3 separate regions of the Homo sapiens genome follow, and regions 2 and 3 are each linked to region 1. Evidence: fine-mapped expression QTL. A gene starts in region 1. Each other region holds a variant in brackets. All regions are shown on one strand. Distances are between the middles of the regions.

Evidence for each region. PIP is the estimated chance that this variant, and not a neighbour inherited with it, causes the effect.
Region 2: its variant is fine-mapped to the expression of CIB1 in whole blood (INTERVAL, PIP above 0.99).
Region 3: its variant is fine-mapped to the expression of CIB1 in whole blood (TOPMed, PIP 0.97).

The regions. Positions count from the first base shown.
Region 1 is chr15:90,232,338-90,235,096 of GRCh38, forward strand. CIB1 (calcium and integrin binding 1) reads right to left here and starts at 1,604. Exons shown (of 7, transcript NM_006384.4): 1 at 1,498-1,604; 2 at 1,332-1,366. The coding sequence starts at 1,548. GDPGP1 (GDP-D-glucose phosphorylase 1) reads left to right here and starts at 1,872. Exons shown (of 4, transcript NM_001013657.3): 1 at 1,872-1,955; 2 at 2,185-2,259. RefSeq lists silencers at 1,097-1,546, 1,567-2,006.
Region 2 is chr15:90,253,334-90,256,092 of GRCh38, forward strand. It overlaps TTLL13 (tubulin tyrosine ligase like 13), which reads left to right. Exons shown (of 15, transcript NM_001396017.1): 4 at 1-34; 5 at 2,422-2,552. It also overlaps a transcript of CIB1 not described here. Among named protein-coding and RNA genes, the nearest start is that of TTLL13, 5.2 kb to the left of the region's middle. The variant A/G (reference allele first, on the strand shown) is at 1,501.
Region 3 is chr15:90,286,366-90,289,124 of GRCh38, forward strand. No RefSeq gene overlaps it. Among named protein-coding and RNA genes, the nearest start is that of NGRN, 22 kb to the left of the region's middle. RefSeq lists an enhancer at 799-1,363. The variant G/A (reference allele first, on the strand shown) is at 1,549.

The sequences.
Region 1 (2,759 bases):
GAGGGGAACTGTCGGTGTTCTCAGCGATCGGTCTCCCTGTGTGTTCATTCCCACTCCTTGCCTGCTGCTCATTGTCAACCAGGTGAGGAGCTAAAACCACGTACACAGAACTTCCGAGTCATCAGGCAACGGTAAGCAAAAGGACATGTCACAAGGCAGTACAGCCTAGGAGTCTATTCTTGCAATGAGTATTTACTGAGCATTTACTATGTGCTTGGCACTGATTCTAGAGATCCCCAAGGGATGAAGAAGTTGGGAAAGGAGCCAGAAGTTGGCCCTAAAGAATTGGCCAGGCACGGTGGCTCACACCTGTAATCCCAGCACTTTGGGAGGCCAAGGCGGGCGGAGCTTTGGAGGTCAGGCGTCTGAGACCAGTCTGAGCAACATGGTGAACCCCTTCTCTACTAAAAATACAAAAATTAGCCGGGCATGGTGGCGGGTGCCTATAATCCCAGCTACTCAGGAGGCTGAGGCAGGAGAATCACTTGAACCCGGAGGCAGGAGAATCACTTGAACCCGGAGGCAGAGCCTGCAGTGAGCCAAGATCGTGCCCCAGCACTCCAGCCTGGGCGACAGAGCGAGACGCTGTCTCAAAAAAAAAAAAACGGAGAAAAGAGCAAAACCAAAAATCTCATTCTCACCTTCACTCCAGGGATCTCTTACCCTCAAAGCCTCCTTTTTAGCAACCACACTGAACTGTCCTCCTCGGCCTCCACCTCCTTCCCATGAGCTTATCTTTGCCACAGGAACCTGGCCTGCATAAATCCGGCAAAAGGGCTTCCAGCCCAAGTTCAAATCTACTTACTCAGAGTGTTGTCTTAAGCAGTTACCAAACCTTTCTGAACCTGTTTCATTGTCCAGTACCTCTCTCCTAAAGATTAAATTAGGTAACGCAGGCAACCATTTAGCACAGTCCCTGGCACATGGTGAGTGCTCAGAAAGCGATAACGGTTACTGTATTATTCAGGTAAAGTTGGGAGAAGGAGCCGGGCTCCCCAAGGCTTCTGTGGTTTAGCCACTGGGCAAGGTCGGCCCCTGCCGGACTGGGGCAGGAAGTTCGGCAGTGCTGAAGCTAGTGGAGCCCAGGGTCAAAGAGCGCCTAACTTTTCCTGGAGGCTGTAAGGTGGCTCCGCGGTGCCACGCTGGGGCCTCAGGCGAGGGCGGGGAGGGCGTGCCGGGAGGAGGGCGCAGCCCGGGCTAGGTCTCCCGGCCTCCAGCTCCCGCTCCTCTGCAGACCTCAGGCCAGCCCCCGCCCCTCCCTCGGGACAGCGCCCCCGAAGCTGTCTCTAGAGGATCCCGGGGTCGGAGGCAGGGTTCAAGGCAGCACTTACAGGAGGATCTCCTGCTTCGTCAGGAACGTCAAGTCCTGGAAGGCAAAGCCAGAGCGGGGATTAGCGGACCGCTGGGAGGCCGCGGCCGCCCCGCAGCCAGCTCCCGGACCCTGCTCCCGAGAAGAGGCCCGCACGCGAGCTCCCCAGGGCCAGGCGTCCCGCGCACCTGGTACTCGGCCAGCAGCTCCTTGGACAGGCGACTGCCCGAGCCCCCCATCGCCCCGCCGCGCGCACAGCTCCGCCAACTCGCCTCGAGACGCAGACAACTTTCTCACTTCCGCCCTTGGGCCGCGTCACTGCCCGGTCCCCGCGGCAACCGCTCCTGGGGCCACCACCCCCGGGCCCGCCCCCTCCTAAAAGCTGCCAGGCGTTCCCAGCCGGGTTTGGCAGGCGAGCTGCCGGCTCCAAGCGGTCCTAGGCGAGCTGGAGGCGGGGCCCGGGGAGGGGCCCGACGCTCCGGGGCGGAGCCCGGGACTCACGGCCCCGCCTCCGGGGTGGGAGGGGGGGGCGGGCCACGCCGCGCGCGTGCGTGCTGGCTGCGTATGCGTCACGGGCGTCATGACCTCGCTGTGGCCCCGGCAGCGGCTGCGGGGAAAGTCGCGAGGTGCATCCGCTTCGGCTGCAGTAGGTGGTGGCGGCGGCAGCCCTGGGTGGGGTCCCATAGGGGCATCTGAGAAGTCACTGGAGCTAGCGTTTCCGGGAAACCTGGAGACTCGCTGAGTGGCGGGGGTCGTCGGCTGCCCCTCTGCCCAGCAAGGGCTTTTCTAGATGTTATCATCAGGCAATCGCTGCACCTGTCGCAGCCCCCAAGCCACCTCTTCCAGAAGTAACCATAACCTTGCTTCCTTCTTAGGCTATTTACTGAGGACCCACTGGATGTCAAGCATTGTGCATAGTTTTCTTCGATTGTTGCAACATCCCTTGCGAGGTAGGTTCCCATTTTACAAAGATGGAAATACGTAAGTCCAAAGGGTGTTAGTGATTTTTCCGGGCGCCGGCATTTAGAAGGTAATCGGTCCAGTCCAAGGCACTTTTAAAGGCTCTCCACTGCTGTTCTCATCATTCCAGCTGACCTGCCGTCCTTTTGACTCCATCTCACCCCTAGACTGCTGACCCTTTGCTCTTGTCCCCTCTTAACCTCTAGGATAATGTTTGGCACATAGTAGGCTCTCAGTAAATATTATCGAATGCATAATAAATGAATGAACGTATACTATTGCAAAAGGTAAGGATTCCAAACTGCTGGGAGGAGGAAGTGGAGGTTGTGTTGGTCAGGCTGGGATTAATTCTTGATCCTTCCAATCCATTATACTTGCTGATCTTTGTAAAGTCTAAATCTGAGTATGTTAGTCTCAGTTTATAACCATTAAATGGTTAAAAACCCAAATCCTGGCCCTCTGTAACTGGACTTCCTCCTATTGGCTCTCT
Region 2 (2,759 bases), 21 kb after region 1:
ACTGGAACGAGTCATGGACATGAAGAGGTTTCAGGTACCCATCTCCTGACCTGAGAGCCGACAGGGGCTAGGGCCCCAGAATGACTATTCCCACCTCCTTGCCCAGGCACCCAAGACTGCTACTCTTTGTGGCTGTCCCCTTGTGCAGACAAGAAAGACCACCCCCAGGGTCTTCTTTTCCAATGGAAAGATCTCCTCTTGGAGATTGTGGGTTTCTGGAATTACCCAAAGGAAGTTTCTGGTGGGCACATCCTATCTCATGATTTGCACTTTGCTTGGTGGCATCTGTGTGTAGCTGGCCCTCTCCAGGGTGGGTGAGCACATCTTAGGGAGAATACTGGGAGGCAGCTTCAGAGCTAACAGCAGGGCCAGTTGAATGATCCAGCCTTCTAAGCAACTTAGTTTAGCATTCCACATCCATTAGGAGACTGCGGGGTCCTGCCTGGTGGCAAGAAATTCAGGAATGATCCACCGGGGTCCACAAGAATAGAACTGCCTTGTGACATTTTTATTATCCTCTAATTGGGCGTTTGTGGTGATCAGCAATAAAATAATTTAAAAGAGTCTGCAGGCTTATTCTTTGGGGAAGCCAGGCAGGAAGTTGAGGAAATTAAAACCTGTCCCACAACTAGTCTTGGGAGAGGTGCCCAAGAGAGAAAGCAAGTGCTAGAAGTTCTCAAGAAGCTCCAGAGGAGGTTGGGTGTGGTGGCTCACACCTGTAATCCCACCACTTTGGGAGGCCAAGGCAGGTGGATCAATTCAGGTCAGGAGTTCACTTGAACCCAGGAGGTGGAGGTTGCAGTGAGCAGAGATCATGCCACTACACTCCAGCCTGTGTGACAGAGTGAGACCCTGTTTTTTTTTTTTTTAAAAAAAAAAGGCTGGGCACAGTGGCTCACGCCTGTAATCCCAACTCTTTGGGAGGCCGAGGCGGGCGGATCATGAGGTCAGGAGTTCAAGACCAGCCTGACCAACAGGGTAAAACCCCATCTCTACTAAAAATACAAAAATTAACCAGGCATGGTGGCGCACACTTGTAATCCCAGCTATTTAGGAGGCTGAGGCAGGAGAATCACTTGAACCCAGGAGGCGGAGGTTGCAGTGAGCCAAGATTGTGTCATTGCACTCCAGCCTGGGTGACAGAGTGAGACTCCATCTAAAAAAAAAAAAAAAAAAAGGACGCTCCAAAGGAGGGGCATTTGTAAAATGAGGAATGCAGGCTGGGCACGGTGGACGGTGGCTCTCGTGCCTGAAATCCCTTTGGGAAGCCAAGGTGGGCAGATTGCTTGAACTCAGGACTTTGAGACCAGCCTGGGCAACAGGCAAAACCCCATCTCTACCAAAAATACAAAAATAAAAAAATATTAGCCAGGCGTAGTGGTGCATGCTTTAGTCCCAGCCACTTGGGAGGCTGAGGCAGGAGGATCTCTTGAGCCTGGGAGGCAGAGGCCGCAGTGAGCTGAGATCACACCACTGCACTCCAGCCTGGGCGACAGAGGG[A/G]GACCCTGTCTCAGGGAAGGGGGAAAAAAAAAGGATAAGGATAACAATAATCAGCAGCATTTACTGAGGGCTTACTGTACAACAGACTCCGTGTTAAGTGCTTTTATAGTATTACCCCATTAAATCCTCAAGAACAGCCCTGAGCAGCAGATATCCCTTGGTTAGGACATGGAGGGTCAGAAATACTAAGTTCATACAGTGAGTGCGGCCAGTGATGGGGAAACCCAGTGGAGAGCACTTAGCATACTCTTTGTGGCTGTCCCCCTGTGCAGACAGGAAAGACCATCCCCAGGGTATTCTTTTCCAACGGAAAGATTCTCCTCCTGGGTCTCTGGAATTACCTGAAGGAAGTGTCTGGTGGGTACATCCTATCTCATTATTTGTTCTTTACTTGGTGGCATCCCGGATGCTGCCACCCATCCAGCAGGACAGAGCAGCCAGGGGTTTCTGGCAGGCACCAGGGTGATGCCATGCCCTCAGTGGGTGCCATGGCATCACATTCCTTGGGGCTGGTTCTTAGTTTCCTTTTATCTTTTGTGTCTTTTGGGGAATGCTTTCGTCTCATTGTCTGCTTTGTGCTATCATGCATTAGTTATTGTTAGAGGACTAGGCCTGGTGGTCTGAGGGGTGTTAGAAGGTGGACTGTGGAAGCCACAGTCTTGGCTAGTTACATTCCTTCTCACTGCCCCTCATTTGCTGAGCTCAGTGTGGATGTGTGTGTTGGGTAGGAGTCACAGAGGGTTTTCTCACCTGCCTTAAGGAACCTTCCTATGTTTGCCCTTGGGGTCCTTGGTGCAGTGCTTACCTCCACTGTGACTTCTCCCTTAACCTTCCCAATCCTCCTCCACTGCTTCCTGGGATGCCCAGGTGCTAGGAAATGCCACTTACTCTGGGGGCTCATACTAACTGGCTGTGTTTCAGAAAATCAACCACTTCCCTGGCATGACAGAAATCTGCCGCAAAGATCTGCTGGCTCGGAACCTCAACCGCATGTACAAACTCTATCCCTCTGAGTACAACATCTTCCCCCGCACCTGGTGCCTCCCCGCAGAGTGAGTGGGTCTGGCTTCCCATGCTGAGATACCAGGGGGAGGAAAAGGGTCGCTCTCAGAGCTCTGGTCTTGTGACCTAGGAATGTCTCAGAGGGATGGAAGTGGAATGAGAAAGTTTCAGCTGGTCAAAGAAAAGAGGGTCTGAGACTGAGTGCTCCAGGAAGAGCATGGACTAGATAGCAGGAAGAGCTCCATGCGGCCCCGGGA
Region 3 (2,759 bases), 54 kb after region 1:
GCAGGGCACAGTGGTGCCTGTGGATGCAGCTGCTGGGGAGGCTGAGGTGGGAGGTTGAGGCTGCAGTGAGCTGAGATCCACCACTCCACTCCAGCTTGGGCAACAGAGTAAGACCATGTTTGGAAAAAAAAAAAAAAAAAAGTCACTGGGGTTTTCTGGATAAAACGTCTGTTTCCATAAGAAAAAAAAAAAAAAAAAGAAAAGAAAAAAAGGGCGGAGACAGCATGTATTATTGTTTCAAAATCATAACCAGATGCTTAGAGTAAATAATTATATCTATTGTTTCAAAAACCAATCTAAGGATTATTAAAAGTTAGTTTTATTGGATTTTTTTTTAAGCTGCACTGATTCCCTCAGGTCTGTCACTTCCAAGTCCATGTTTTACTACTTTGTAACCCTATTTGGAAGGAAAACTGCAACTAAGACTATGATCTATCCTGAGATGAAAAGTTTCACACATATACAGCACACACACCCCCCACCACAGTATGATGACACAGTGCCACCCTTAGGCAAAAGGGTACCACTGACAGCAAATGCATTTTTTTCTTTATTTCATCTAATTTTTTTTTCTTTATTTCTTCTAAAAGCAGCAAATGCATTTAACATTTTATTGAGATTCTCAACAGCTGCCATTTGGTTTATATAGCAAATTGTTTCTAAAGTAACTTTTTTTCTATTTTTGATATTTTTATGAAAATTATGTTCTTCAGTTTTAAAGCCCTGTCCCTCTCCCAAAGAAAGATTAATAACTACCTACTAAGTAATGAGTATTCGGGAAAATAACAAAAGCAAAAACAGCTTTTAAACACTTGTGAAACAAGGGTAAGGGTCCAAAGTCAAGACCTTCTGGGCCCATTGGAGGTGCTAGGCTTGCCTGGTGACACTATCAGCACTTCCCCATCCACAACATCCTCAACAGCTGGGAGCCCTGTGCGGACCCCGGTGTCGGGGGGCGGGGAGGGGGGCTTCCTGTTCCACAGGCTCCACTCTCTTTTTCCTCTCCACCACTGCTGTTGGGCCTCCCCTCCAAATCTGCCTAACAAAGGCAGCAGGATCTTTAATACTGTTCAGCTTTGTAAATGAAGACAGGATACTCTAGAAAGTTGGGAGATTCCCTGGTCCAGTCTGGGAGAGGAAAAAATATGCAATGTAGCATGGATGGTTTCACTTTCTTGTCCACTCAGCCACATGCTCATACTTATTAAATTAATGTATCAGATGCTTCCAAAGTCCTGACATGTAGCACAAAAGTTGCTTGTAAAAAATAAGTTGCAGGCCGGGCGCAGTGTCTCATGCCTGTAATCCCAGCACTTTGGGAGGCCAAGGTGGGTGGATCACATGAGGTCGGGAGTTTGAGACCAGCCTGGCCAACCTGGAGAAACCCTGTATCTACTTAAAAAATACAAAATTAGCCAGGCATGGTGGCACATGCCTGTAATCCCAGCTACTCGGGAGGCTGAGGCAGGAGAATCACTTGAACCTGGGAGGCAGAGGTTGCAGTGAGCCGAGATAGCGCCATTGCACTCCAGCCTGGGCAAAAATAGC[G/A]AAACTCCGTATCAAAAAAAAAAAAAAAAAGTTAAGTTGCAAAATGATGAAAATTCAGGCTCCTGATGACAAAGCTAGTTCTGATAAGTAGTTACTTTGACATATACGGCAGCTTCGCCTGTAAGTCCTGTGTTCTGAGGGTTTCATTTAGGCCACAGGAAGTTGGAATCCAAGTTTCAAAGGCTCTCTGCTGACAAAATGTGCTATTTCCATCAATGGTCTTCTACTCAGTAATGAAAGGAACAAACTACCAAAACATGTCGTGTCATGGATCAACCTCAAAAACATTAGCTAAGTAAAAAAGCCAGACACGAGACCACATATTGTATAATTCCGTTGATTTGAAATGTCCAGAAAAGACAAATTTATAGAGACAGAAATGGGCTGATTTACCTCAAGAGGCAGGGATTCCGGCTCTCTAGACTGCATGTGATACATACATGAGAAAAAATAGGGAAAATAAAAAAATTTAAATATAAATAAATGAAAATAATACTTCTCCCTGATCATAAAGAAAATCACATTCTTAGAGGCCGGGCATGGTGGCTCATGCCTGTAATCCCAGCACTTTGGAAGGTCGAAGTGGGTGGATCATGAGGTCAGGAGTTCGAGACCAGCCTGTCCATTATAGTGAAACCCCGTCTCTACTAAAAATACGAAAATTAGCCGGGCGTGGTGGTGCATGCCTATAATCCTAGCTACTCAGGAGGCTGAGGCAGGAGAATTGCTTGAATCCAGGAGGTGGAGGTTGCAGTGAGCTGAGATCGCGCCACTGCACCCCAGCCTGGGTGACAGACCGAGACTCTGTCTCAAAAAAAAAAAAAAAAAAAGAAAGTCACATTGTTTTGTAATAATTTGGAAGACAAAATATGAAGAAAAGTCTAATTTTGCCACTCAAAACATTCTGATTTGTTGCTTTTTATACTTTTTTATGCATATAAACATTTTTAAAAGTAGAATCATAACATATAGTCTTTTGTCACTATGTTTTGGGCAGTAAATTTCTATGGCAGTAAATATATCCTTGGCATCATCATTTTTAATAGTTGGATGTATATTAAGTTAATCATTGTCACCCTAGAAGTAAATTTTCTTATATATACATTTTAATGGACTCGAGCAAGCATTTTTGGACTGAATTTATAGAAGTAGAATTTCTGGAGGACAATAACATAAAACAGTTCTAGTGTTTTTAATAAAAATTTTCAAAT